4 separate regions of the Homo sapiens genome follow, and regions 1, 2 and 3 are each reported to be linked to region 4. The links are microRNA targets in miRTarBase. Many come from high-throughput screens and were not tested one by one. Region 4 holds a microRNA gene; each other region holds the end of a gene's coding sequence.

What was found. The annotated mature microRNA hsa-miR-4418 reads CACUGCAGGACUCAGCAG and lies in region 4 at 2,352-2,369, shown strand. An mRNA with a match to its seed (bases 2 to 7 or 8) in the 3' UTR can be bound and repressed. Matches are read on the target gene's strand: a 7mer-m8 pairs with bases 2 to 8, a 7mer-A1 pairs with bases 2 to 7 and ends in A, and an 8mer does both.
Region 1: miRTarBase lists NOA1 as a target of hsa-miR-4418. The part of its 3' UTR that is shown has no 7-base or 8-base seed match.
Region 2: miRTarBase lists TCERG1 as a target of hsa-miR-4418. Seed matches in the 3' UTR shown: 7mer-A1 at 1,824-1,830 and 7mer-A1 at 1,833-1,839.
Region 3: miRTarBase lists RNF38 as a target of hsa-miR-4418. Seed matches in the 3' UTR shown: 7mer-A1 at 1,917-1,923 and 7mer-m8 at 2,123-2,129.

What each region holds. Positions count from the first base shown.
Region 1 is chr4:56,957,614-56,964,736 of GRCh38, forward strand. It overlaps NOA1 (nitric oxide associated 1), which reads right to left. Exons shown (of 7, transcript NM_032313.4): 6 at 6,793-6,913; 7 at 5,737-6,048. The coding sequence ends at 5,837. Among named protein-coding and RNA genes, the nearest start is that of NOA1, 16 kb to the right of the region's middle.
Region 2 is chr5:146,509,830-146,516,952 of GRCh38, forward strand. It overlaps TCERG1 (transcription elongation regulator 1), which reads left to right. Exons shown (of 23, transcript NM_001382548.1): 23 at 612-2,132. The coding sequence ends at 813. GPR151 (G protein-coupled receptor 151) reads right to left here and starts at 6,361. Exons shown (of 1, transcript NM_194251.3): 1 at 3,315-6,361. The coding sequence starts at 6,284. The coding sequence ends at 5,025. RefSeq lists a silencer at 803-1,003.
Region 3 is chr9:36,333,143-36,340,265 of GRCh38, reverse strand. RNF38 (ring finger protein 38) reads left to right here. Exons shown (of 12, transcript NM_022781.5): 12 at 452-3,866. The coding sequence ends at 514. Among named protein-coding and RNA genes, the nearest start is that of RNF38, 64 kb to the left of the region's middle.
Region 4 is chr1:22,263,926-22,271,048 of GRCh38, forward strand. MIR4418 (microRNA 4418) reads left to right here and starts at 2,314; the gene lies at 2,314-2,375. RefSeq lists enhancers at 114-997, 998-1,880, 2,537-3,056.

The DNA of each region.
Region 1 (7,123 bases), not on the chromosome of region 4:
GGAAAAGGTGAGGCATCACTGCAATATGATGTTAAAATAGTAATCTTGGCCTGGTGTGGTGGCTCACACCTGTAATCCCAGCACTTTGGGAGGCTGAGGTGGGAGGATTGGTGAAGCTAGGAGTTTGAGACCAGCCTGGGCAACAAAGTGAGACCCTGTCTCTACAAAAATAAAAAATTTAGCTGGGTGTGGTGGCACCTGCCTATAGTTCCAGCTACTCGGGTGGCTGAGGCGGGAGTATCACTTGAGCCCAGGAGGTCAAGGCTGCGTTGAGCTGTGATTACACCACTACACTCCAGCCTGGGCAGCCGAGTGAGACCCTGTCTCTGAAAAAATAAAACAACAACAACAAAACAAAAAACAAAAAAACCTATCTTGAACCATTCCCCTCTCACGACAAGGTCTTAATGGGGGCAGATAATATGACAGAGAGACATTCAGAGCAGGCAGAGGTGTCATCGATTTGATTCACGAGTCTGAAATCTTGTTTTTAATGTTTAAGCATTACTCTTTGACAATTGAGAGAAAACAATCCCCCTGGGAGGAGGAAAGTGGCCAAAAGAAAATGGAACAGCTGAGAAAGAATGGAAATGATTCTAATGCTCCACGACACAGAGCCAAGTGGGAGGGAAGCCAGGGTAAATGATCCGAGCCCGTCTATGAAACAGCCCGCCTCAGCTTGCGCGCTGGGTGCTTACTCAGTGAAGCAATAACAACTCTGTCATGGCTGACACAGCTGGAGCTCCTCCATGTTAGTCAGCTGCAGGAAACCAGCCTATGTCCATTGTGCAAGAAGAGTCTGAACACTAGAGACACAGGCACACAAGATTGCATCTCTACTCCGCTTCTCCTTGGTTGTTATGGGAAGTGAGTGTCTCAAGTTAAATAAACTAGACTCTGGGGAACTATACAGTAAAGACTTAGTGATCGGCACAGCTTGGCATTTATGGTGATTAAAGATACAAAACATATTACAACTTTAATTTGTCTTAGTAACTTTGAAGAAGATGTTGTTATTTTAGTTTAATTAGAGGGGGGAAAAGCAGAGGGATTACGTGTAACTTTTTAAAATAAAACTTTGAACCTAATATCACATAAAAGTCAAAAAGTACTTTGATGGAATTTATTTTACTTCTTTTGGGTGTCATGAATACAAAAGAGGTGACATGCTCAACACCACAGTGCTGCAGAGCCAGGTAAACAATCTAGAATAAACTTGCTTCATTGTTTTCTAGCAACCCCTAACCACCTCTGTGATCTGTGGAAGTGAGGAGTTGGTACTTTGCCCTTAATTTCTCCTCCCGTTCCTGGCCAGAAGAGCCCACTAATTCTTGTACCCTGTCATAGTGTAAGTGACTACTGATTCAAAAGATGTCGTTATATTCAGATTAATGGATAAAGAAGTACAGTCATGTATCGCATAATGACTTCTTGGTCAGCAATGGGCCACATATACAGCCGTAGTCTGGTAAAATTATAATGGAGTCAGAAAATACCTATTGCCTAATGATTTGTGTTACAATTGCCTACAGAATTCAGTACAGCAACATGTTGTACAGGTTTGTAGCCTAGGAGCCATAGGCTATACCATACAGCCTAGGTGTAGAGTAGGCTATACCATCTAGGTTTGTGTAAATACACTTTATGATGTTTGTCCAAAGATGAAATTGCCTAACGATGCATTTCTTAGAACACATCCCTGTTGCTAAGCAATGCACTACTGCACCAATACAGTAATGGAACTTTCTTAAAGGAAAATCTACTAGGAAACACTTGATCCTAGCAGTGATCCTAGGCTGCATTAAATTGGAGGCACAATATGGAATAAATTAATACCAGATCCCAGTAGAAGTCCTCAACTAATTCTAGGCATAGAGCATCTTTCTCACTCTTTTTGCTGGCTTTCTTTCCTGCTTTTTTTTTTTTTGAGATGGAGTCTTGCTCTGTCACCCAGGCTGGAGTGCAGTGGTGCAATCATGGCTTACTGCAGCCTCAACCTCCCAGGCTCAAGGGATCTTCCCACCTCAGCCTCCTGAATAGCTGAGACTACAGGTGGGTGTCACCATGCCCAGCTAAATTAAATTTTTTTTTTTGTAGAGACAGGGTCTTAACTATGTTGCCAGGGCTGGTCTTGAATGCCTGGCTTCAAGGGATCCTCCTGCCTTGGCCTCCCAAAGTGTTTGGATTATGGGTGTGAGCCCTGTTTTCTGAAATACATTTTCTTAAGTTGTCAGGGTGATAGTAGTCAGTTTTTAGATTGTTTCTCCACAAAGGCCCAGTTCACCCTTTGCTGGCTTTCTTTCCTGCCTGTTTTTTGTTTTAATTCTACCTAAATATCCTGGCCTAAGCTCTGAACTGTGAACTCCTGTTTTCAACCATAGGTAGAAATATAATGACCATAATTTTTTTTTTTTTTTTTGAGATGGAGTTTTGCTCTTGTGCCCAGGCTGGAGTGCAATGGCACGGTCTTAGCTCATCGCAACCTCTGCCTCCCGGGTTCAAGCGATTCTCCTGCCTCAGCCTCCCAAGTAGCTGGGATTACAGGCATGTGCCACCACACCTGGCTAATTTTGTATTTTTTTTTTAGTAGAGATGGGGTTTCTCCATGTTGGTCAGGCTGCTCTCGAACTCCCGACCTCAGGTGATCCACCCACCTTGGCCTCCCAAAGTGTTGGATTACAGGTGTGAGCCACCGCACCCAGACACAATTTTAACTTATAAAATAAATGGTATTTCATTCCCTCCAAAATAAAAACTAGAAATCAACTGCCAATCAATTTTCTCCATTTGGGAAGCTGCCGCCCTCTAGAGGTAATATGATGTTGGGGGCACTTTCCAGTTGTCACCAGGACTGACAGCAGAGGGAGTTGCTACTGCATTTAGTGTCTGGGATGAGAGATACCAGACATAATGAAATGCAGTTTTTTTGTTTTTTTTTGAGACGGAGTCTTGCTCTGTTGCCCAGGCTGGACTGCAGTGGCGCGATCTTGGCTCACTGCAGCTTCCGCCTACCAGGTTCCAGGGATTTTCCTGCCCCAGTCTCCGGAGTAGCTGGGACTACAGGCACGCGCCAGCGCAGTCAGCTAATTTTTGTATTTTTAGTAGAGACGGGGTTTCACCTTGTTGGCCAGGATGGTCTCAATCTCCTGATCTCATGATCCGCCCGCCTCGGTCTTCCAAAGTGCTGGGATTACAGGCGTGAGCCACCGCGCCCGGCTGAAATGCAGTTTTATATATAAAGAAAGAACCACCTTGCCCAAGATACCAGTAGTACTCACTTTGAAACACTATGAAAGGTCTACAACAAGTTGCATCATCTTAAAAAATTCTCCATTATATTTAATCTAAGAGGACTTAGAAGAGGACTGAGGAGTGGGGAGAAGACAGGAGAGTGTGAAATACATGGGGGCTCCCATATGTTGGGACAGAACATGGTCCTCTCAGGAATTTCATGGCTCTAACTGCGTTTCAGCCTAGCTTATCTTACCAGCATTTATTTCAACATTAGGATCTGGGACTTGACTTGCCAATTCTTCATGACACAGCTGTGGTACTACTTACTCAGCTAGGAATAACAAAAGGTGTAGACTTTTTCTTTTTTCCTTTTTTCAGACAGGGTCTCGCTCTGTTGCCCAGGCTGGAGTGCAGTAATGTGATCATAGCTCACTGCAGCCTCCATATCCCAGGCTCAAGTGATCCTCCTGACTCAGCCTCTCCAGTAGCTGAGATTACAGGCACACAGCGCCACACCTGGCTAATTTTTTTGGGTTTTAGTAGAGATGAGGTCTTGCTGTGTTGCCCAGGCTGGTCTTGAACTCCTAAACTCAAGCAATCCTCCTGCCTTGGCATCCCAAAATGTTGGGATTACAGGCATGAGCCACTGCTCCTGGCCAATAAAGACTTCTGATTGATGTAATGTTATTCAGTCATATAAAGATGAAATGTAAATAAAATGGTTAAAGTGTCCTCTCAGTTGCAGAATAGACCTCAGTTGCTAGAAATACATAGCTTTTTAAAAATCTTTATTTATTTAGTTTTTTTGGGATGAAGTTTTGCTCTTGTTGCCCAGGCTGGAGTGCAGTGGTGTGATCTCGGCTCACTGCAACTTCCTTCTCCTGGGTTCGTGCAATTCTCCTGCCTCAGCCTCCCGAGTAGCTGGGATTACAGGTGCCCACCACGCCTGGCTAATTTTTGTGTTTTTAGTAGAGATGGGGTTTCACCATGTTGTCCAGGCTAGTCTCTAACTCCTGACCTCAGGTGATCCACTTGCCTTGGCCTCCCAGAGTGCTGGGATTACAGGCGTTGAGCCACTGTGTCCAGCCGACAATTCATTTTTATTAAAAAAAATAATAGAGATGGGGTCTCACTATGTTGACCAGGCTGATCTTGAACTCCTGGCCTCAAGCGATTCTCCTGCCTTGGCTTCCCAAAGTGCTGGGATTACAGGTGTGAGCCACTACATCTGGCCTTGAATCCTTTTTTATCTAAGATTTTCAGGCATTGTCAAATTGTGTAAGGTAAATTTCTACTTGTTCTCTAGTATCCATTCTCCCCATTTTTCCTTAATAAAAACCCCAAATGGTTCCCATTTCCTCCTCCATTTCCCAGCTTCCTTATGGGTGGGTGTGGCCATGTGACTTGACCTGTGGACTATGTAAACTGATGTGTGCAACATCCAGCTTTTCTTCCCTTCTTTTAAATAGGGAAGTTGCTTGCTCTCCATACTTTCCCCCTTTTTACCCTTGCTGGAAAAGGATGACAACTTGGGCAGCCACCTTAGACCTACAGATGGCCATGGAATGTTCCACCAGCTGGATCCTTGGAGCAGAGCCACCTACTCACTTCTATCTTATTTAAGCCAATGAATTTTGGAGAAATTAATTTTCCTGCCATTTTTTCATATACTGACTGCTAACTCCAAATAAGAGAAATGACATCTGGTCTCAATATAAAAAACAGTAGTGAGGCGGGGCATGGTGGCTCACACTTGTAATCCCAGAACTTTAGGAGACCGAGGTGGGTGGACAACATGGTGAGAACTTGTCTCTACTAAAAATACAAAAATTAGCCAGGGGTGGTGGTGCATACCTGTTATCCTAGCTACTCAGGAAGCTGAGGCATGAGAATTGCTTGAATCCAGGAGGTGGAATTTGCAGTGAGCCGAGATTGCACCACTGTACTTCAGCCTGGGTGACAGAGCAAGACCCTGTCTCAAAAAAAAAAAAAAAAAAAAAAAAAGAAACAACAGTAGTGGGAGAAACTTGAATATAGCAGGCTTCCAATTTTATATATATGTGGGTCACAGATACATACCATATACATACTATACAAAAAAAAAAACTTTTTATAAGCTGAATACATTATGAACATAAGTCTTGAATAGTTTAAAAAAGTTAACTGTTAAGAGCTTTGAAAAGGGTGAGGCTGGCCGCGGCGGCTCACGCCTGTATTCCCAGCACTTTGGGAGGCTGAGGCGGATGGATCACCTGAGGTCAGGAGTTCGAGACCAGCCTGGCCAACATGGTGAAACCCCATCTCTACTAAAAATACAAAACTTAGCTGGGCATAGTGGCGCATGCCTGTAATCCCAGCTACTGGGGGGCTGAGGCAGGAGGATTGCTTGAACCTGGGAGGTAGAGGTTACAGTGAGCCAAGATCGTGCCACTGCACTCCAACCTGGGCAACAGAGCAGGGCTCAGTCTCAGAAAAAAAAAAAAAGAAAAAAGAAAAAAAGGGTAAGAATGGGAGCTTTATTTATGCGTTATATGTTTAATACAAATTCAATGTATTTTGTTGTGTTCAATACAGTTAATATCTGGAGTGAACAAGGTCGGTCTCATACATTTATCTTTCCTTTCTTCTTCCTCACGTTGTACATAAGGGAAGGAGGCTTCTTGGTTTTATAGGCCACACTTTTCTTGATGCGCTGTCCTTTGATGTTAACAATATATGGCAAGAGAGGGGGCCGGACGGTCAAAACTGTTCCTTCAGGTGTATAGCCTCGGAGATGCAGTCTGTCCTTAAAATTAGGTGTTACTGAAACCCAACCTATGCAGGCATGTGACACAACACAAAAGGCTGTTAGCAATCATCTTATTAAAAATACCAAACCAAAGCTGAAAATGGACTATCAGAGAACGCTGTCACTCTCTTTCACTCTCTTATTATTTTATTATTTTTTAAGAAACTGCGTCTTGCTATGTTACCCAGGCTGAACTCAAGTTCCTGGGCTCAAGCGATCGTACTGCCTCGGCGTCCCGAGAAGCTGGGGGCACAGGTGGACACACCTTAGTTTTAAAAAAGCATACAATGCGTTTGTGCAAAGTACAAATTTATTTTCAGAATAGGTTGTATTTTATGAATAAACTAGTATGTACACCTTAAAATAATCAGCTTTCATCAGTTAAGGCACTTTTCTATAAAAAAAATTGTCGGTAAGGCTGCTTTATTCACTTTTTGTTTTTTTTTTTTGAGATGGAGTTTGGCTCTTGTTGCCCAGGCTGGAGTGCAATGGCATGATCTAGGCTCACCGCAACCTCCGCCTCCTGGGTTCAAGCGATTCTCCTGCCTCAGCCTCCCGAGTAGCTGGAATTACAGGCATGCGCCACCATGCCCGGCTAATTTTGTACTTTTAGTAGAGACGGGGTTTCTCCATGTTGGTCAGGTTGGTCTCAAACTCCCGACCTCAGGTGATCCGCCCACCTCGGCCTCACAAAGTGCTGGGATTACAGGTGTGAGCCACCGTGCCTGCCCTTTTATTCACTTTTTAAAAAGTGCTTGGCATAAAATTACCTGCAGAGGAAAACTTGATGTCGGCCACTGCTTCAGATGCCCCCAGTCCTTCTTTTAACATAATGTCTTCAGCAACAAGAGGAGGAAATCCTGCCATTCGTTCTTTTCCACCCATTGGAATCTTCCAATGAAATAAAGATATTTACAAGTTCAAATTAAATTTCTTGGAACTCTAACATTAAGCAAATCACTGATAAGATAATTCTGTACAGGGATCAAGAATAAAATCCTTTCAAATATTCAACTGTTGAAAAGAACTTGCAATCACTTCTGGGGTCAAATGAAAAGCAAGGGAACTCTGTGATGGGATGAAGCTTACAAATCTCAGGGC
Region 2 (7,123 bases), not on the chromosome of region 4:
GCTTACCAGTCAGTATGCAGGAAACCATTTTTGTTTCATGCTCCAGCTTTTCTTCTTTAAGAGAGAAATTTGAAACATCTTAATAAAGGGTATGTGCACGGGAGGCTAGATAGTGCTGAGGGTGTGGTTTTTAGATATTTTGTCATTTGGATTTTTTGGTCAGGATCCTTAATGTTTTGCATCAGCTTGGGCTTTTAAATTAGATGTGAAGTAAGACTTCTTTCTACATTTTTATAGTTAATTTAGTGAAAGATGTGAAAGTGAAAGCTTGTGAAAGATGCTGGGATTGGCAGCCCCGCAGACTGAAGTCCTCTGTTCATCCACAGAACAGGTACAGCACGGGCAAGATTTACCCACCCACCCTCAGCCCTGATCTGGAGGGACCACCACTAGGGGTGGGAGGGTAATTCAGCTTCTGAGGCCCTTTCACTCCTTGGAGTCTTTGCTGAGGCGACTTACAAAGGTGACCACTGCCGTGAAATTTTTCTTAAAAAAAAAAAAAAAAAAAAAAATGGAAACACAATTAGGAACTAGATGGACATTTCCAGCTCATTTCTGAAAGACCTGTGAACAGCAGTCAGTAATTCTTGGACTTCTTTTTCTTATTTCAGATCCAAAAAATTAATCCAAGAATCAGATCAGCACCTGAAAGATGTAGAAAAAATTTTACAGAATGACAAACGGTATCTAGTACTGGACTGTGTGCCAGAGGAGAGGCGTAAACTGATTGTGGCATATGTTGATGACCTGGATCGCCGGGGTCCACCCCCACCTCCCACAGCATCGGAGCCCACGAGACGATCAACAAAATAATTCTAAATACTCTTCCATAGGGGCATCTATTCAAAATGCTTGCATGAGCCAATTTTCAGGTTTTTACATATATGTGCATTAGTCAACCTATTGCGAAACCATCTGACAAACAGAAGGAGAAGCATTTGTGAACAGTTTCTGAACAGAACACTTTGGAAATATTTATGCTTTTCTTTGTGTGGCATGACTGACATACATACTCAAATATAGGCTGTCTCTAGTAAATCTTAAAATCTTGAAGCTAAAATTCATCCTTTTATGAGGTGTGGAAGTCAGTGACTTGGTGACGTTCTTCCTAGCAGTGTTAATACATGCAAGAAGTAAGAGCATTTGTGGCTTGAACTTGCCAGATGCAAATACCACAGACTCCAAGAAAACCCGAGTTGGGGTTTGTTTTGTTTTGATTTTTTTTTTTTAAAGCGGGTAAAAGAGAAAACACTGAAAATTGAATTCTTATCTTCCAGAGGCTACAATTATTATAATGGACAATACTTTTACCTTTGTCTCTAAAGATCAGATTAGTTTTATTTGTTCACTTACGTGCTTTGATTATCCCCTCTGAATTATAGACCGAGTCTTGTTGTTTAGCCTAAGAGAAGATTTATGTAGTAATTTCTTCTCAGGTATGGAACCACGGTCATAACTAACATGTTGGCCAGAATAGAACCACTGGTTAAACATATTTTATTCACCATTAAGTGATCTTTATCAATATTCTGGATTAGACAACAAATTACCTTTCTGGGTGTTTCTTGTAAACTATACTCCTGTTTGAATGTTAAACTTTGTTGCTAAAGTTTAATTTTAAGATGTTTGAATGTTCAGTTTATGTATTTGAACTACAATAAACCAACCCTTTTTATATATCTGTATTGTATATGATTATTGTTACTTAATTTTTAAGAGCTTATTTTAACCTGTTTTTAAAAGCAGCAAATAGAATTTCCCACAAAGTAAGTTGACTCTAAATCTTAAGTATTACCTAGTTTTTAAAGGTTTGAATATAATAATGCAGTATTTGCAGTATAAAAAGGAAGGAATTTGTAGAGAATCATTTTGGTGCTCAAGTCTCTTAGCAGTGCCTTATTGCCTCATAGCAAGAAGATGCTGGGGTTTTTTTTGTTTTTGTCCTTTGTATTAATGTATGATGGTTTGCGCCTTTTTGGCATTCTTTCAACATGTCGTGTACATCACACCATGAATCAGTTCCTAATTGATATATCTAGCTTTACCTCCCGAGTTAAAAAAAAATCTTTTTATTTTATGCCTTCATAGGTTGCTCGTTTCAGAGTGCCACATAAATAAAATGTTTAACAAAATATATATGTTAATAGAATAATTTATTTTCCATTATCTCATACCGACTATGATTGTAACAAATCCTAGAAAGAAGGAATACCAACAGATCTGTATTTGTATGTTGTGTGCATACAGTCACAGACACACACATTCACATCCATGTTATATAGTTCATAGCTTAAATCTATTAAGTGCCATGGAAATTTTGTGAACTCTTTATGTAGGAACCTGGCATTGATCAGACTAAGGTCTTCAGCTGTAAAGTTGATAAACAGGATATGTTTTTTCTTTTTATGCGTACAAAGGATCTTACTCTGTCTCCTAGGCTGGGGTGCAGTGGTGCCATCATAGCTCACTGTAACTTTGAACTCCTGGTTTCAGTGATCCTTCTGAGTAGCTGAGACTGCAGGCATGCATTACCATGTCTGGCTTTTTTTTTTTTCTTTTTAAAATTTTTTTGGAAATGGTTTCACTCTGTTGCCCAGGCTGGCCTCAAACTCCTAGCCTCAAGCCATTCTCCCACCTCGGCCACCCAAAGTGCTAGGATTACAGGCGTCAACCGCCACACCTGGCCGCCTTCTGTTTCCTTTTTTTTCTTTCTTTGAAGTTCATTTTATAAGTTCATTGAGTGATTTTTAAGTACTGTGAGGAATGAAATTGAAGTGCTTGCCAAAAGGAGCACAACTATTATGTAGTATGTAGAAATACGACTGTCTCACAAGGGTAAAGTTTCCAGAATGCCTTATTTTGTTATTCTGAATTCCACATAATATTGTTTGCCCACTTACTACGTTGTTTCTCACAGTAGAGAAGTGAGAAGAAAACAGTTTGGTGATATCTGTTCTAATTTCCTACTTTTGTCTTAAAGTATCTGGGTTTGATCAGATAAGATACAAATCAAACTTCTCTAAGCAGATTTTTTAAGGGATCAAGTCGGGACTTAACTTTGTGTATCAGGTTCTTAATGAAAGGTTCATTGTAATTACTCTTTGTTCCAGTGTCTGCATCTTGATTTGGTGCTTGTTAGCAAACTCTGAAAATCAGTTCACCTTGAGACCTGTTCCAGTGTTAAGGTCAAACAGCCCCATAAAGCTCCATTGTTCCTAATAATGATTTTGGAATGATAATTCAAGACAAAGACAGCTTTAAATCTCCAAAAACTATCGGAAGTAAAGCGTAATTATTTTTATTTCTTTACAAGTTTAAAGTGTCAAACCCTGGAAGCTTACATCCTAAATTTACTACATATAATGAACATAAAAATTATTTATTCAAATAATCACAGACAATGATAATCCTTTTTATAACTACCATATCACAAGACAATATTTTGGATTCTTGGGTTAAATTTTACTTTATTTGAATACATGAGCTTCAAATAAAATTTGTAATGAAGGATGTAAAAAGAATACAGCCCTACCTCCTGTGTTAAAAAGCAAACTATGACCACTTATGAAAAAGCAAAGAATCCGGAAACCCATAGACAAAAAGCAAAATCTTTTTTTTTCCATAACATATCCTTTATATTTCAGATTCTCCATGGCTTGGTTTGCCCTAAAGGCATTTCTATTCTGAGGGAAACTTTCAGTGAAAATACCCGAGTTCCATAACAAAGTAATCAAGAATCATGGGTGAATGTCATTATACTTAAAAGGGGCAGAAATATATCATAATCATGTTTTATTGGGTATGTTTTACCTTGCTATAAAATGAATGGTTATTGCCTGTTACTCAGATTTTACCGTATGTCTGGGTACACAGTTTTACTGCTTTCTGCATTGCCCTTATGCTTTTTATTTTGTATTCTTAACCAAATTCTGTCTTGGTTTGTTGAATTTTCTCTTTTTGATATTAATCTCTTTCTCAGGTTGCTAGATTATTTTTATAACTTAGCCTATAGTATTTTAAAAGTTGAGTAGGGTTCAAGTTCAATGTTCTGAGTAAGGGTAAGTTTAGTACCATTAACAAGAAAGATCACCATCTCCATCTTCTATTTGTATTTGAGGAGTAATCTATACCTATATCATTAACCATGGTTTATCTTGGGAGAAAGGAGATATTAGGAGGAACACATTTCTGCTTATAGAAAAATAACTTTCCCACATTTTGGAAGTGAAGAGAGGACATTTTTTTAAGTATTTTTTCCCCCATATCAGACTACTGAATGTCATTGGAAAGCTGCTACAATTCTTAGACTTAGAAACTGAAGACTCATTCAGGTAGCTTTAAAAAGTTCACTGAAGCAGGCTTTAGTTTAAGTTTGAATTTATTTAAACTTGGCCAGAACCAGCCATGGCTTGAAATGAGTCCAGAATTGGAATAAGGTGCTGTTTCTTTTTCTTTGACCTTCAGTCATGAACATTATGATACGGACTTTTCATCAAGTAAATTAACACTTATTAAGTAAATGAAGAACGCATTAAAATTTATCATTAATGTGTTAAAAATCTCAAGTGAAAGTAGATTTTGAGCTTTGGTTATGTGAAATACAATTTAGTAGGTAAAATTAGGACTAGCAGGTCCTGGGTGAAACTGAAGGTAAAGGGGCTCAGCTTTGACAGAACCTCTACTGCAGGCTCCAGCCGGTCCACTACAGGGCTGGTCCTAGGGGGTACCCAGTAAAACCACTGTGAACAAATGACAGAATAGCCAGGCTGTCTAATCACTTTGACAGCAACATCTTTACACAACACTTAAATTGTTTGGGAAGCCAAGTTCTAATTCTGAAACAATTATTACTTCTAACATGGTTCTCTACTTACCACATTGCACATTTGGAAAGTGTAGATTGTGAAATATTTTTATAATTCCTAATGGTAATAATTATATCAGTTTGTAAAGTCAGCAATATTGATAAGCAGCAGTACAAGTAAATACAATAATCACAGTTTGTTTTGCTTTGAAACTTAAATCTATTTAACACCTTCCCCTGTCTCTTGATCTTCATGTTCCCAGGGGATAGGGTCATTGTCCTGTACAGAAGGGACTGTGTCCCTCTCATGCCAAAACTGCTCTACGTCAGGAAGGATGGGAATCTCTGCCTTCTCAGTTTTCCCTTTGCCAGAGGAGGGAGAGCTGGGTTTCTCTTTTTCTGGTATGGATGCTGGGGATTCTGGAGATGGAACCTTGTCAGGAAGACCCTCTGAGTTGCCAGCTGGTGTTTCCTGAGACTCTGAGACAGTTGGAGGTTTTTTGGTTATCATCCATTTCCATACACCTTTCAAGCCTTCCCTGAACTCTTCCGACATCACAAGAAAAATGAGAGGATTTGCTGAAGAGATGGAAAACATCAAGACTTGAGACAGGGCTATGAAACCTTGTGGTGGGGCCGGGCCTGCAGCCTTCAGATGCCATACCCACAGCCAAGCTACCCATTCGGGGAGCCACAAGAGAGCAGAGATGATGGCAATGCTCAGCAGCATCACTGTGACTTGCTTTGAGCGTATCTGGTTTCTAAGATTTTGAGTCTTAGTTCCTCGTTTTTTACATTGGTCATAAGCTCTCCAGAAATAAAAGCTGGCAAAAAATAATGGAAGGCCAAATGCCAGGAGTGGGTAGAGCTTACCAAACATCGACATAAACTCTTCAGCCACAGCTGGTACATCCACGAGGCACATTTCCACACCTTCATGATGCCTGATGGTGCTAAAGAACCATTCCGGCAGGGGTAACAGGCTAGCCACAGTCCAGATGGCCACCAGCACTGACCAGATGGTGTAGTTGTGGATACTCACTTGCTTGGCTGGGTCACTTGCATACATGAAGCATACTTTGGCCACCACAACGATTGTCAGGCTCTTGGCTGCCATGCATGTGTGGATAAACCAGTCAGAGGACTTGCAGACAAACCAGCCTAGATCCCAAACACTTTTGGAGTACGCCGTAGCTCGGATAGGTGCAGAAAACAGCAGGAGGGAGAGATCAGCCAGGCTGAGATTCAGAATCAGGGAGTGGATCATGGATGGCTTTCCTTTCCAAGCATTGTGAAGGAGGATGCCAATCACACACAGGTTTCCCACGAAGCCCACCAGGCAGACAGCCACCAAGAGAGCCGGGATGATGGTTCTCCAGTCCTGGGAATCAGAGGGCAGGTACCCTCCGGCAAAGTGGAGGTGAGCAAAGGACACATTCATGCTGCTGGAGTTAGAGTCTGCAAAGGCAGCTGCCAGCATCACTCTTCACAGCTTCTTACAGAAGTTAGATTCTTATTTAGGTTTGTCTTTCTGCCTGGGCTCTTTTGCATAGGAAATAAGTACTCTGTCGTCAGTGTCAAATGACACTTCTGGATCCTCCCCTTGCTTATTTCCTGAGAGCAGAATGTGGAAGGAGGCTGGCTGTTAAGCTCTTCTCTGCTGCATACAATATACTTGTGACTGTACCGACTGTCAGATAGCAGGAGCACATGGCTGCTGCTCATTAGCAAGTCTAATACCAAATCGTCAGCCCTGTGGAGTAATACAAATATACCCATAAATGATGAATGAAGAGAACATACATGTAAGTGGCATGTGTTCCTTGGGGGGTCACTAGAGCCAGTCAAGGCAATTATTTTCAACCAGCTCTTCCTAAAATCTTGACTGCTGTCTGTAATTTAGTGAACACTACATCTGAACCAAGTTCTTTGAACTTCACCTGATGGCCGGATCCAGTGGGTCTGGAGTAGGGCCCAAGAAATCATTTCTAACAAGTTCCCATGAGACTCTGATGCTGCAGGTTGGGAGACCACACTTTGAGAACCACTGTTTTAAACTGAGAACTAAAGCTTCCCCTACCCACTCTGCAGAGATGAGCTTCCTCTTCTTTTCCCCAACCCTTACAACCACCTCAGTTCCATCAACAGCTGGCTGAGTTCAAACACAGCTGGATAATGAAAACAAGTTAGAAGTCCTATTAAAAAAATCTAATTATGGATGACTCTCAGTTTATTCTATTACGAGTTTTTAGAAGCAATTTTACAGCTCCAAATTAGAACTGCTTTACATACTAATAAGACTTTTCAACAAGTGATGGT
Region 3 (7,123 bases), not on the chromosome of region 4:
GGCTCACGCCTGTAATCCCAGCACCTTGGGAGGCCATGGTGGGTGGATCACCCGAGGTCAGGAGTTTGAGACCAGCCTGACCAACATGGTGAAACCCCGTCTCTACTAAAATACAAAAATTAGCCAGGCATGGTGGTGGGCACCTGTAATCTCAGCTGCTCGGGAGGCTGAGACGGGAGAATCGCTTGAACCCAGGAGGCAGTGGTTGCAGTGAGTTGAGATCGTGCCATTGCACTCCAGCCTGGGCAACAAGAGCGAAACTCCATCTCAAAAAAAAAATTCCTGGGCTAATTCGGAGGTTTATGGGTTAAAAAAAGGCAAAAATTGCTTTGTACCTCTTCAGAGGAAGAAAGAATGTAAAAACTGTGGGAAGTAAAAGTAGTTCCATTGCTTTGAATGTGTTTCATTGTATGTGTCACAATTTAAACAAGTTTTCCTTTTTGTTTTGTAGGCAAATCGTACTTGCCCAATTTGCCGAGCTGATGCTTCAGAAGTGCATCGGGATTCAGAATGACCAACCTAAGAAGCACAAATTTAGTTTGGGTGTTCCTCATCACATGTATATACGGACTATCCATTGAACTTAATCTGTGTGGCTTCCAGCCCTCCCTTTACCAAAAGGGTCAATGGACCTTTCTTTGCACTGTGTGACTTAATCAACTATAAAAGCTTACAATTAGTCTTCACAGTTATGGGATTGTTATACTAACCGTGTGATTGGAACTCCAAAGACTTTTTCTTTAGCTTAATTTTGTGTGTGCACTAACATTCCCTGGTTTTTGTGTGATCATTCCGAGTGTTGCTGCAAGATTACAGTGGACGTGATCTTTTAGCATGTGCTTTTATAAAAAGTGGTAGCTACAGATGATATAGCAATCTACCTTATATAGAGCCTTCAGAAACTGTGAGTGGAAATGAATGCGCAGCGTATGACTGTTGGTGATAAGTGTATCTGTGTGAGTGTGTGCAACTACTTGTGTGAGGGCATGGTAGCTAACGTGTGTATGAGATCCTATATACCAGCATGTACCAAGAATGTGTGTGTAGTTTTAATTATGCTGCAATGTATAATCTGGTGTGTTATTTAAACAGCACTAGTACTGTACACTGGTTTTTTTCCCTTGTGTTTGCTGTTGCACACTGATTGCTGAGGGTGCATCAATTACAAGCATTGAATACTCCATCCCCTTCCCTCCCAGTGAATGGAATGAGAAAAGCCTTCTTCCTTTGCTTCAGGCAGCTGTCACCTTCTCTTTATTGGTGGTCCTAAGTGGGTCACTTAAGAAAAAAAAGTGTAACAAATTCTCGCTCCATGAACCTGGTTTTTTTTTATTCTGTTGTGGAAATTTTTAAATCTCCAACTTGCTGTTTCCAAAAAGAAGGTGCAATATCATATATCATCAGTTAGCAATATTAGCATTTCAATCAGTGATTTGAATGTTGATACTTTTTTTTCCTTTACATTTCCAGTAAGTTTCTTACAGAAAGTACCTGTGATTTTTTTTAATGTTTAGATTTGTAGTCTAGTCTATTCTGAAGATATTTGATTAATATATTTCTAAGAAGACCACTAGTCCCATGAAGTCTCACCTTGTTGACTTCCACCAGAACAAAACCTGTTAATTCAGCTTGACTTCTCATATGTGTTCTGTGTTCAAGCTCCTGTGGGCAACTCAATTGTTTTAAGAAAACTCTATTTCTGTTCATATTAATTCACTTGCCAGACTCCAATTCTGAAAGTTGTCTAGTTCTTCCTTCATCACACGTGCTTCTCATCGAAACCCTGGTTTCAGGATGGATCAAGTGCTGTTACAGCTCATGTTCCTTAGACCTGATTTGTTTTGATATTTTACTGCCTTTCCTTTTAATTTTTGTTTGAATGAGAAAAGTTTAATACAACAGGTGTCCAGAATACTTGCAGTATAAATGAAGATTTGGTTTTTGTATAAAAAAATAATGCTGTTAAACAGGAGTTGACCTTCATTTAGTTGATGTAATACATAGCTGTATGGGGTTTTTTTTAGTAAGTTCTTTGAGCATAATTCACTTTAAAGTCATTTTTCCAGCAATGTTTAAATTACTTTCTCATTCTTTTAGTGTATTCAACATTGTCTGCCTCTTCCTGCAGTTGATGTAATTGCTTTGTTTGCAATAGCACAAGCTGCATTATTCCAGTCAGGACTGTGATAACTTGCTGCCAGCCCCACTCAACTTTCAGTTGGCTCTGTGTCAGTTTTCCATTCAGTGTTAACTACTTGTTACTGCCATGCTGCTTGCCCTCCCTTGAAGTGTCTATAAGCTCATCACAGCCTAGAGTTAAGTAAAGTCAATTCACAGAAGCACAATTTTGCCCTTTGCGAGACATTGTTGCCTCTATCTAGTCCTACAAGTAGGGTTTTGCATACTGTGTTTGCCCCTAGGGTTGTCAGTGCATCAGAAATACTTCTAAATAGTGGTAAAAATGCACATGGTTAATGCACATGTTACTTTTAAATCATTAGGATATCCCTCACCTGTTCCTGATGAATAAAAAGTGTGTTAAAGACCAAAATTCTTGGCATAATAATCAGCTACATACAAATCACATATAGTTTAATCTTTTTTAATGAAAAAAAATCATGTTTAAAATGGCAAAAGCCCATCTTATACACTTTTATATAGCTGCAAAAAATTTATATCTGTACAGATCTAACACTACGACACTCAGTATTCATTTTATTGAAGCATGCAAGTAAAGCACTTTTTCTAATTTATATAGAGGTATCTAATTAACACAGCACATTGTACTAATGACTAGGAGTAGCAGCTTTTTCTTCTCTCCCTCTATGAATTCTTATAATGTCCCTTTTTCTGTAAGTTTTTGAGAGGCAATTGGCAATTTAGGAGGCAGCAGGGTCTGTTTTGGTCAAATCTTGAATTTCGTTGTTGCACTCTAGTGACTGATCTTTGGGAATGTCTTGTCTTTGCATGGGGCTCATAGAGATGTGTGCAGACTTGCTTATTGTGGTTAGTGTGTATCAGGAACACACACACAGGTGTTCTGACCAGCTCAGGCTTGCCACAGTGAGCAACTCTGTGGCTAGCAAAAGAGAAGTTTATTTGTGCCCAGCCATTGGTCACCTTGGGTGATGCACCAGATAGCAGGCAGATGTTGGTTCATTGGCCTTCGTCCTCTTTCCTCCTAAAATAATATTGGCTTTACCATCTTAACTCAGCTGTGGGTTTTTTGTGGGTTCTTGTTTGTTTTTTGGCATGAATTGTCATCTTTGGTGTTTTTTTAACCCCCAGCCCCTCAAAAAAATAAGGCCTCCAGGTATCAAGATCTCATATTAGGATTTTCTGTCCTTAATTTTTTGAGCAAAATCTGGAAAATGTGAAAGCATATTTAGATTTTATATACTATCTGAAATGTGATTTGTTAAGATTCTTAAATTTGGGCCTCTTAGAATAATTTTGAATGAGATCTACCGACTCACTTGTGAGAATATTTTTCACAGATTATCTTTGGGCCTTTTCATTAGAAAGCTGTTTGTTTGTCCCCCTGTTGGTACATTTGGTTACCTCATTTTGCCGTTTCAGATTGTGAAAGCTCACAGGGGTGTTTTTTGGAATCATTTGCTGAGTCATTTTCTCAAATCATATTCCATTGTATCAGTTAACATATAGTTTTAAATGTATGTATTATAAATATCTGTAACCAAATCATTTGAAGGCTTGATAAATTTTTAACAAAGTTTGTACATTTTTTATGAAAGTTACTAGTAATGCTTTACTAAGTAGTGCAATGAATTTTTATTTTTAATCCCTGTGCCCAATTTTGGAGTTGAGAGGGTTGTTGGTAATAAATGTATGATGTACACTTAAAACATCTGTTGTGTTTCATGTCACTGTGTTAGGGATGGGGAAGGGTTGTATATGCATGGGGATGGAGAGATAGATAGCAGCAGGAAGATAGAGCTGGGTTGAATTACTGGCTGCCAGATTCTGTATTTCTGCATTTGTGTAAACAACTTAGAAATGCAAAAGTAACTAGCGTTGTAACATATGGTACATATTTATATATTTTATATATATATATATATATATATTTTTTTTTTTTTTTTTTTTTGAGACAGAATCTCACTCTGTCACCCATGCTGGGGTGCTCAATCTCAGCTCACTGTAACCTCTGCAGCCCTGGTTCAAGCGATTCTCCTGCCTCAGTCTCCCAAGTAGCTGGGATCCCGCCACTGTGCCTGGCTAATTTTTGTATTTTTAGTAGAGACAGGGTTTCACCATTTTGGCCAGGCTGGTCTTGAACTCCTGACCTCGTGATCCACCCACCTCAGCCTCCCAAAGTGCTGGGATTATAGGCGTGAGCCACCGCGCCCGGCCATATTTATATTTTTATAAAGGCCAAGAACATAGCAGAAAGAGTATAGCCAAACATGGTATATGCATATTGAACAGTAGAGATACATAAGTAGAGCCTGGCAACATAGTGAGACCCCCATCTCTACAAAAATGTTTTAAAAATTAGCTGGGCCTGGTGGCGCACACCTATAGTCCTAGCTACTTAGAAGTCTGAGGTTGGAGGATCACTTGAGCCCAGGAATTTGAGGTTACAGTGAGCTATATTTGTGCCACTGCACTCCAGCCTGGGCAATAGCAAGAAGACCCTGTCTCTTCAGGAAAAATAAAAAATAAAAGGCTGGGTGTGGTGGCTCACACCTGTAGTCCTGGCACTTTGGGAGGCTGAGTTGGGCGGATCATGAGGTCAGGAGTTCAAGACCAGCCTGGCCAACCTGGTGAAACCCTGTCTCACTAAAAATACAAAAATTAGCCAGGCATGGTGGCACATGTCTGTAATCCCAGCTACTTGGGAGGCTGAGGCGGGAGAATCACTTGAACCAGGGAGGCGTAGGTTGCGGTGAGCCAAGATCGTGCCACTGCACTCCAGCCTGGGTGACAGCAAGACTCCATCTTGGGAAGGCGGTAAAAAAAAAAAAAAGATAACGTAGGTAACTAGAATTCAACTAGAGTTCTTTCTACAAGACTGCAATAGACAACTATTTAGATTTGTCCACATTAGCTACAGTTTATATACAACTTACTGTCAACATAATATGGAAGGAGGAGCCTCTGCTTGTCATTTTCCATATATGTTTGTATAATAGTTTTCCTTTGACTAAAAAAGGAAGGAAATATAAACAATCTACATAGGCTTTGTTAATTAAGATTTTACCCTCTTGACTGGCTCCAGTACTCCTCTGACAGAAGTGACCACATCCTGATTTTATTCCCTCCTTTTTCCAACATACGTAGAAGAGTACTTGTGTTTAACTTTGAATGTTTCAAGAAACCCAAAACTTAACACCATGTCTTATGACAGAGGCATTTACTGCTAAGTACCCATGCACTATCCCAAGTCACCCTACTTACATAAGTCATGGAGGGGCATGGTTCTGGCCAAGGGCCTGTAAGCATAGGCTATGTGGCCTTTCCATGCAGAAGCATATATAAAAGCCAGCTCTCTTCGTCTGCTTGGGTAGTGGCGGCCTGAGTCACTCCCTAGAAAAGAGTTGTGTTTTTTGTTTTGTTTTGTTTTTTTCCCCTGCTCTGTCCCCCAGGCTGGAGTGCAGTGACGTGATCTCGGCTCACGGCAACCTCTGTCTCCTGGGTTCAAGTGATTCTCCTGCTTCAGCCTCCCGAGTAGCTGGGATTCAAAGTATGTGCCACAACACCCATCTAATTTTTGTATTTTTAGTAAAGACGGGGTTTTGCCATGTTGGCCAGGCTGGTCTCAAACTCCTGACCTCAGGTGATTCACCCGCCTCAGCCTCCCAAAGTGCTGGGGTTACAGGCATGAGCCACTGCGCCTGGCCGGGAGGATGAGATTCTTATGAATGGGATCACATCACACAGCCAATGTTTCAGCTCTCTTGTACACTTTAATGAACTGGATGAACAAGGCCGTTCAATAAAGTGTAATTAGCCACATGATTTTAAATTTTGTGAGCCACATTAAAAACAGTTGAAATTATTTTTAATATTCAGTCCAATATGCCAAAATATTTCTACTGTAATATTAAGATACTTTATATTTTCTCATACCAAGTCTTTGAAATCCAGTGTGTATGTTACATTGATGATGCATCTCAGTTTGGACCAGCCACATTTCAAATGCTCAGTAGCCACACGTGCATAGTGGCCAAGTTAGATGGCACAGGTCTAGACCAGAACTATGCAGAGTTAACCTGGTTTCTAAAGAGTTGAACGTTACTCGTGAGATCCCAAGATGACTTTCTATTATTGTATGCCTTAACAAACTACAGTATGATTTTAAAACATTTTATTCTATATATAGTTGAATGTAACTTTTGTTGCTACAATACATTAGAAAATACTCATTTTTAAAGCAGTCTTAATTTCTCTGAAGCTGCCATAGATTCAAGAACAAAGCTCCTTGTTTGTCAGTAAATCTTCAGATATATTTGCTTGAATTCACAGCTATTTAAAATAATTGGGCCAGGCACAGTGGCTCCCGTCTGTAATCCCAGTACTTTGGAGGCCAAGGTGGGTGGATCACTTGAGGCCAGGAGTTCAAGACCAGCCTAGCCAACATGGTGAAACCCCATCTCTACTAAACATACAAAAAAAAAAAAAAAGGGCTGGGCATGGTGGCTCACGCCTGTAATCCCAACACTTTGGGAGGCCAAGGCAGGCGGATCATGCGGTCAAGAGATCGAGACCATCCTGGCAAACATGGTGAAACCCTGTCTCTACTAAAAATATAAAAATTTGCTGGGTGTGGTGGCGCATGTCTGTAGTCCCAGCTACTTGGGAGGCTGAGGCAGGAGAATCATTTGAACCCAGGAGGTAGAGGTTGCAGTGAGCTGAGATCGCACCACTGCACTCCAGCCTGGTGACCCAGCGAGACTCCATCTCAAAAAAAAGAAAAAGCCGGGCGAGGTAGCAGATGCCTACTGTAATCCCAGCTACTCGGGAGGCTGAGGCAGGAGAATCACTTGAACCCAGGAGGCAGAGGTTGCAGTGAGCCAAGATCATGTCACTGCACTCCAGTCTGGGCAACAGAGTGAGACTCCGTCTCAAAAAAAAAAATAATTTGATCCTCATAAAATTC
Region 4 (7,123 bases):
CTTCCTTCAGTCCTCGACATGGAGCTTCTAGAATGTGCCAGGCTCTTCACTGGGTGGTGGTGGTGGGGTGGGGGTGTCCAGAGACAAAAATGATACAGTTGTGCTTTGGAGAACAGTGTGTGTGTGCATGTGTGTGTGTACACACGCGCTTGTGCAGATAGAGGGATGTAAGAGTGGTGTGGGCAGTGTGCCGATGATCACAGTGGTGCTGGCACCATACAGGAGGATGGTGCTGCGGGGGAGGGTGGTGGTCTTGAAGTTAGTGGCGGTGGTCTTAGGGATGGTGCTGGTGACAGTGGTGCTGGTGACAGTAAAGACGTGTGAGACAGCAGCAGCCCTCCCTCTCTCGACCCTGAGGGCCACAACCAGCCCCCACCTGGCCATGGCAGCTCCTTCTAGGCCCCACCTCTTCCTTCTGGGGTCAGCCCTTCTGAGGCCTCAGTGAGCCCAGGCTCCTAGGAACAGCAGGCCAGAGAGGGTACATGTCTGGCTCAAGGCAGAAGCAAGGGAGAGACGGATCCAGGTGCCTCGTCCAGACCTCTGCATTACCCTCCCCCAACCCCTTTTTCACATTCTATAAGCATTTCCTGGGCCTGTGCTCGGGGTCAGGCCCTGCACTGGCATCTGCACTAGGTATTGGCGGCATCACTGTGCCTCCTGCTCTCAGAGACCTCCATCTAGACAGGAGGGAGACACTCAGCCAGGCCAGGATAACACAGAGACCAGGACGGGCAGAGGGCGGTGGCAGCCCCAGCCTAGAAGTGGCAAGGACATCGGACTGAGGCTTTGAAGGATGTGGAGGAGTTTACTCACTGGGGAAGTAAGCGCAGACGGCCCTGCAAGTGGAAAGGCCTGGAGGTTTGAAAGGTGGCATGTTTTCGGGAAACAGAGGCTGGAGTCGGGCTGGAAGAGGCTGAAAAAGAGAGTGGGGTGGGGCCAGGTCGCTGTTGCAGCACAGGCAACTTAGAGGCTGTCCCACCCTGACGGGCATCCCCTCTGCTCCCTAGCCCCCACCCCCATACCAAACCCCTCCTGGGGATCACAGTACCACCCCTCCCCCCAAATAACTGGAATTGTTTGAAAATACCCAGCAAGAATTCAGCTCAGCAGGTTATACTGGTCAGGGGAAGCAGCTGATTGGGGGTCTGGGGGTGGGGGAGGACTCAGTGGGACTTCCTGGGAGAAGGTGAGAGGTCCTGACCTTAGGCCAGGGCCAGCGCCCCTGTGAGCACTGATCCAGGAGCAGATTACAAGGGAGACTGGAGCCAAATCCGCTTTGAAAAAGAGCTGGTGGAGTTTAACTCCCGCTCAGTGAGGTCACCTGGAAAAGCTCCTTCCCTGCCTGGGAGCCGGGTGTAGAGTTGGGGTGAGGGGGATGTGGGGCCAGAGCAGAGTTCTGGTAAGGAGCTCTGTGTGTGTGTGTGTGTGTGTGTGTGTGTGTGTGTGTGTGTGTGCGCGCCAGGGTGTATGTGCATGTATGTGTATATTTGGGGATGCATGTATGAGGACGTATGTGTATATCTGGGGATGTGCATGTGTGTGTGTATTTGTGTGTGAGCGTATCTGTGTGGTGTGCGTCTGTGTTTGTTAGTAGATAGTGCATTTGTGTCTCTGCCTGTTGGCCTCGCGATTCATCCATGGTTACCGTACTGACACCTGTGTGTGTGTGCGTGTGTGTGTCGTGTCCACCCCTGCACACACATGCACACTTCTGCGCAGCTTTTTCATGTCTGCTTCCATACATTTCCCTTTCCTGCTTCTCTCCACCCTTCCTTCCCAATCCTCAGCCCCACCACTATGCCAACATTCCTTCATTCATTCCTTCAAAAAATGTTTCTCGAGGGTCTGCTTTGTGCCAGGCACTGTTCTAGGCTCCAAGCATGAACGGGAGATAAGAAGGCGGGAGAGGCTTCTACTTTCATAGAAGCGTGTGTCCTCTGTGATGAGGTAGACATTAAACAGACAAGCCATTAGTAATATGGCACATAGTGACGCATGCTAGGGAACGAAATTCAGCAGCGTGAGGGGAAAAGGAGGGCTGTGTTACATGGCCTCTCAGGGAGGGCCACTGAGAAGATACCTGAGCAGAGACCTGAAGGATGAGAGGCTGGAGATGTCATTCTCTGGAGGCAGGGTGCCCAGGCTGAGGACGCAGCTAGTCAAAGGTCCCTAGGTGGGAGCATGCTTGGGGGGTTCTAGGGACGGCAAAGGGGCCAGTGTGGCTGGAGTGGACAGGTGAGGGGGAGGGTGGGAGGAGAGGAGTCAGCAGAGCCTCTGTGTCACCCAGGGGCCTGGGGGGCCTCCTGGGGGCTTTGGTTTTTGCTCTGAGTGACCGTGGTGGTTGTGGGAGTCACTGCAGGACTCAGCAGGAATTCTGGATAGTAAGTGGGAGGTGGGGGACCAGTGAGGAGGCTGTCGCCAGAACCCACTGAGACGTGGTGGTGGCTTGGGAACAGAGGGCAGAGCAGGGGAGGCGGGGGAGGCCCCATCTCAGATAAGTTGAGTGGGACGTCAGGGATTTGATGACCCAAGCCTGGAGTGGAAGATGTAAACCTGGGGGCCATTAGCAGTCCAGGGGCATGAGCCCAGTTCCCCTGGGAGCCACATCGCTCATTTGCTTGGCTGTGTGGCTTCTTGTGTGTGCAAAGCTTCAACGCCCCTCCCCTCTAGAGCCTTAGGAGAGGCCCCAGGGGTCAGCTGAGGTGGGGCCGAGCCGAACTAAGGGGCAGTGCCAGCAGTTGATTCAGGGCACCTGGGTGTTGGCATCAGACAGACCTTGGCTTGCATCTTCCTGTGACCTTGGACAAGTTCTTAACCACCCTGAGCCCCATCGTCTCATCTGTAAAGTGGAGATAATAGGAGTATCTCCCAGGCGGGCTGCTTGTGAGGGTTGAATGAGATGGTGCCTGTGTGGGACTGAGATGACACACAGCCCCCTTATTATTCATATTGACCATGAGCTATGGTGGCCCCTGGCAGGGCTTAGGAGAGGGGTATTTACTATGTGCCTGGTCCCTCTACGGTTGATAAACTTGATAAACGGGGAACCTGGAGCTCATCAAAGAGGCCAAGTGACTTGCCCAAGGCCACAAGGAAAGGGTGAAGCTGTCATTGGAACTGACTTCTAACCATGCTCCCCACAGCTTCAAGCTGCCGCTGCACAGGAAGCTCCAGGTAGGCGGAAGGAGTTGGGGTCTGAAGACTGACTCACCTGTCCAGGAACCTCTGCCCAGGGGTGTAAGGACTGCCGTGGTGCAGCCTCATGGCATCCCCCATTCCCCCTGCAACAGGGCCCTGGGTGTTCATTTCAATCCGATTTTTCTTTTCTTTTTTTTTTTTTTTTTGAGATGGAGTCTTGCTCTGTCACCCAGGCTGGAGTGCAGTGGCGCCATCTTGGCTCATGGCAAGCTCCGCCTCCCGGTTCAAGCATCAGTCCAATTTTTCTAAAGCAAATGTTGGCTTCTGGGGAGAAGGTGTGGCCGGACAATTTCCAGGAGCACATGGCCCTAGGCATACTGACCCTTTGAGATGGCCTTAGTTTGGGCAGGGATGCTGCAGGTGGTCAAAGCTGGACCTCCCGCCCAATGGAAGGTGTTGGGTGGCTGGCCCCCAGCTGTGTGGCGTGTGCATCGCTGGGCCTGAGTGTGTGCGTGTGTGTGTGCATGTGTGTGTGTGCATGCGTGTGTGTGCATGCGTGTGTGTGTGTGTGCGTTGTTGGGGTGGGAGTGGGAAGTCAGACCTGTGTGGCAAAAACCTGAGTCTAGTGGAAGGCCTCCCCTGCCCCTACCCACCCTCCTCCCTGGCCGAGGGGGCTGAACCGTGGCTGGAGGGAGCCACGTCAGGCTGGGATCTCCGAGGGGTCCTTGAACCACATCTGAGCTCTGGGAAGGCTCCCCGGTGCATGGAAAGCAGAGAGGGAGGCTCCGTGGTGATTTACAGGCACCTCCTTTTGATCGTCTCGCTCCCTTGGAGAGATCCCTCCTCCGCACCTGGGGGCTGCAGGGGAGGGGGGGCGCAGGGGGTTCTCAGCTGGCCCAGGGCAGCAGGGTCTGGTGTCCCTGGGATACAGGAAGCTTCCTTCTCTCTGGCATGGCCTTGCTGGTACCTGGCTGCTTGTGCATATCACTGAGCAACCCAGCTCCTGTCCAGCGGGGCGGGGTCCAGAGCACACCCCTGGCGCTCGGGGCTGGGCCTGCCTCCCCACACCTGGCTCTGCTTCCATTCTTCCAGGGACAATGCGACTGTTTCACTGGCCTTGTCTTCTGCCTAGACCCACGGGGTTTATTCTTCCTGCCTCCCTGCCTGACATTCCTGGACTCCACTCCAGGCGTTTGAAAGCCCTGGATGTCCCAACAATTTCAATTTTTTTCCCTGGTCCTAAGGGGCCAAGAAGCCCAGCTTTCAGGCAGGGTCTAGGCATGGCCTATGGGGTGGTCAGCAGTGGGCAGGTGCAGATGCAAAGGAGGGCAGAGGTTGCTGAGGCTGTGGATGGCCTTGTGACAGGTCCCGAAAGGGCACCTGAGCTAGGACGCCCAGGCGGGACTGCGAGGGAGGTGGCCACTCTGGGGCAGGGTGGGGACAGCCCTCAGGACTCCTCGGGCCTGAACGTCTTTGGGAGGAACTCTAGCATGTCCAGGGCAGGGCGGGGGTGCCTGGGAAAGCGGAGTGAGGGAGCCCCCGGCAGGCTTGTGTCAAGGCAGGGACAGGTGCCTTCCTCAGGGCCCAAGTGACTGGTTTTACCTCCTCTCTCACCGTCAAGTCCATGGGTGGGAGTGGAGGCGGAGGAAGTAGGGGATGAGCAGGGGAGTTGCCAGACCAGAGACAGCTTGAACCCAGAGTCCACTGACGGGTTGTGGGGCTGAGAAAGGAGAGACGGGGATAGGAACAGCACGGAGTGCCAGCAGGAGGCCAGAGTGGCAGGGACAGGAGTGGAGTGACCTTGGGGGTGATGGGGTGGAGCTGTGTGCTGGGCGCCCTGTCTATCCACCCCACCATCTGGGGCCTCAGGGGCCCGGGGCCACCATCTGATTGTGGTCATTGTGGTCCTGGTCATTGCTTTCACCCCTCCTTGCCCCTCTCTCATCTCCTGCCCAAAGCCTTCTTCCTCCACAGAGCTTAAGGTTTACTTATTGAAATTAGCCCGTCTTTTTCTTCATGGCTTCTGGGTTTTGTAACACGCTGAGGAAGGGCTTCCCTACCCAAGATTCTGAAAATGTTTCCTTTTAGCGCTCACCGTTCTCTTCTCTTCTTTCTGTCCTCTGCCTGTTCCTGCCCCACTTCCCATGATTATCATGCTTTTGTTTGTTTGTTTTTTGAAGGAGTCTCCCACTGTTGCCCGGGCTGGAGTATAGTGGCGCAATCACAATCTCGCAATCTCGGCTCACTGCAACCTCCACCTCCTGGGTTCAAATGATTCTCCTGCCTCAGCCTCCCGAGTAGCTGGGATTACAGGTGCCCGCCACCAGGCCGGGTTAAGTTTTTGTATTTTTAGTAGAGACCGGGTTTCACTATGTTGGCCAGGCTGGTCTTGAACTCCTGACCTTGTGATCAACCGCCTCAGCCTCCCAAAGTGCTGGGATTACAGGTATGAGCCACCGCGTCTGGCCTGTTTGTGGGATTACAGGCATGAGCCATCTGTTTGTTGTTTCTCATCTCCCACTGGCAGAGAGGTTCCTTGAATATGCCCAGCACTTAGATAGTGCGTGGTGTATGGGAGGTGAGCAATACATCATATTGCATGTGGGACCAGGATGTGTGCCCAGGTCCCAGACCCAAGACGGAGAAGGTGTTTAGCAGAGAAATTGTTCTGTGGCTGTGCAAATTGAGGCTGATAGCAGCAATCCCAGAACGCATCTGTTGAGTACTTACCTGTACATTCAGGTAAATCACCTGCCCCAGCCCAGTCTCCTGCTCCCTCCCCGAACATTCTCCCCTTACCTGTCCAGGGGCCTCTGCTCCAAGTGGGCGGGCCTCCTCTAGCCTGGAGTCCCTTCTGTCACCTCTCCTCACAGCCCACACACTCCCCCATAGCTCCCCACTAATCTCTCTCCTCCCTAACTAGGGGTGGATGCAGGAACGTTGGCATCCATTCAGCAAAGGCCTGTTGGGTTCTAGTGGTGCTCAGAGCTGGGGTGCAGTGATGGGGGAGCCATGTTCCCTCCAGAGCTTCACAGAAGGCAGGCGACATACTCCACTCTTCCCACCATAACTACCATCCAGCCCACTGAAGACCACCATGAGGGTAAGGGTCCTCTATCCGGGATGCTGGCTGGACATCCTCTCTGGAAAGATGCAGTTTTATTTCTCACAACTCACATGTCATTGGTCCCAAAATTATTGCTTATGAATTCACTTGTATAGAAGTAGCCATTAATTTTCATTATAATTGGTGGAGAGAAGCGGCAGGGTTTCTATGAAGGGATAAGAAAGTTCAGCCTTGACCGGGCGTGGTGGCTCATGCCTGTAATCCCAACACTTTGGGAGGCCGAGGTGTGTGGATCACCTGAGGTCAGGAGTTCAAGATCAACCTGGCCAACATGGCAAAACCCCGTCTCTACTAAAAATACAAAAATTAGCTGGGGATGGTGGTGAGTGCCTATAATCCCAACTACTGAGGAGGCTGAGGCAGGAGAATTGCTTGAACCTGGGAGGCAGAGGTTGTAGTGAGCCGAGATTGTGCCACTGCACTCCAGCCTGGGCGACAGAGTGAGACTCCATCTCAAAAAAAAAAAAAAAAAAAGTAAGTTCAGCCTCAAGCTACTAATCTGTAAAATGAGAGCATAATTATATATCACAGAGCTCCATAAACGCTTTCATCACGCTAATAAAATGAAACGTTCCTGAAGTAACATCAGGGCTCATGGTTTCACCAGTTGTTCCGTGGCCGTGCAAATTGAGGCTGATAACTGTGAACCCAGAACACATTTGTCCAGCAATTACTGGTGCTTACAGGGGTGCAGAGGCAGACCCCACGGCACTGGGACCCTTCGGATGTGGGCTGAGGAGAAGGCATCAAAGAAGGCATCAAAGACTCCCAGATGTCTGGCCTGCACACTGGGGGATGGGGGGCAGTGGTGGTGACAAATCAAAGCCGGAGAAAAGGCCCAGTGACAGTGCAGAGAGA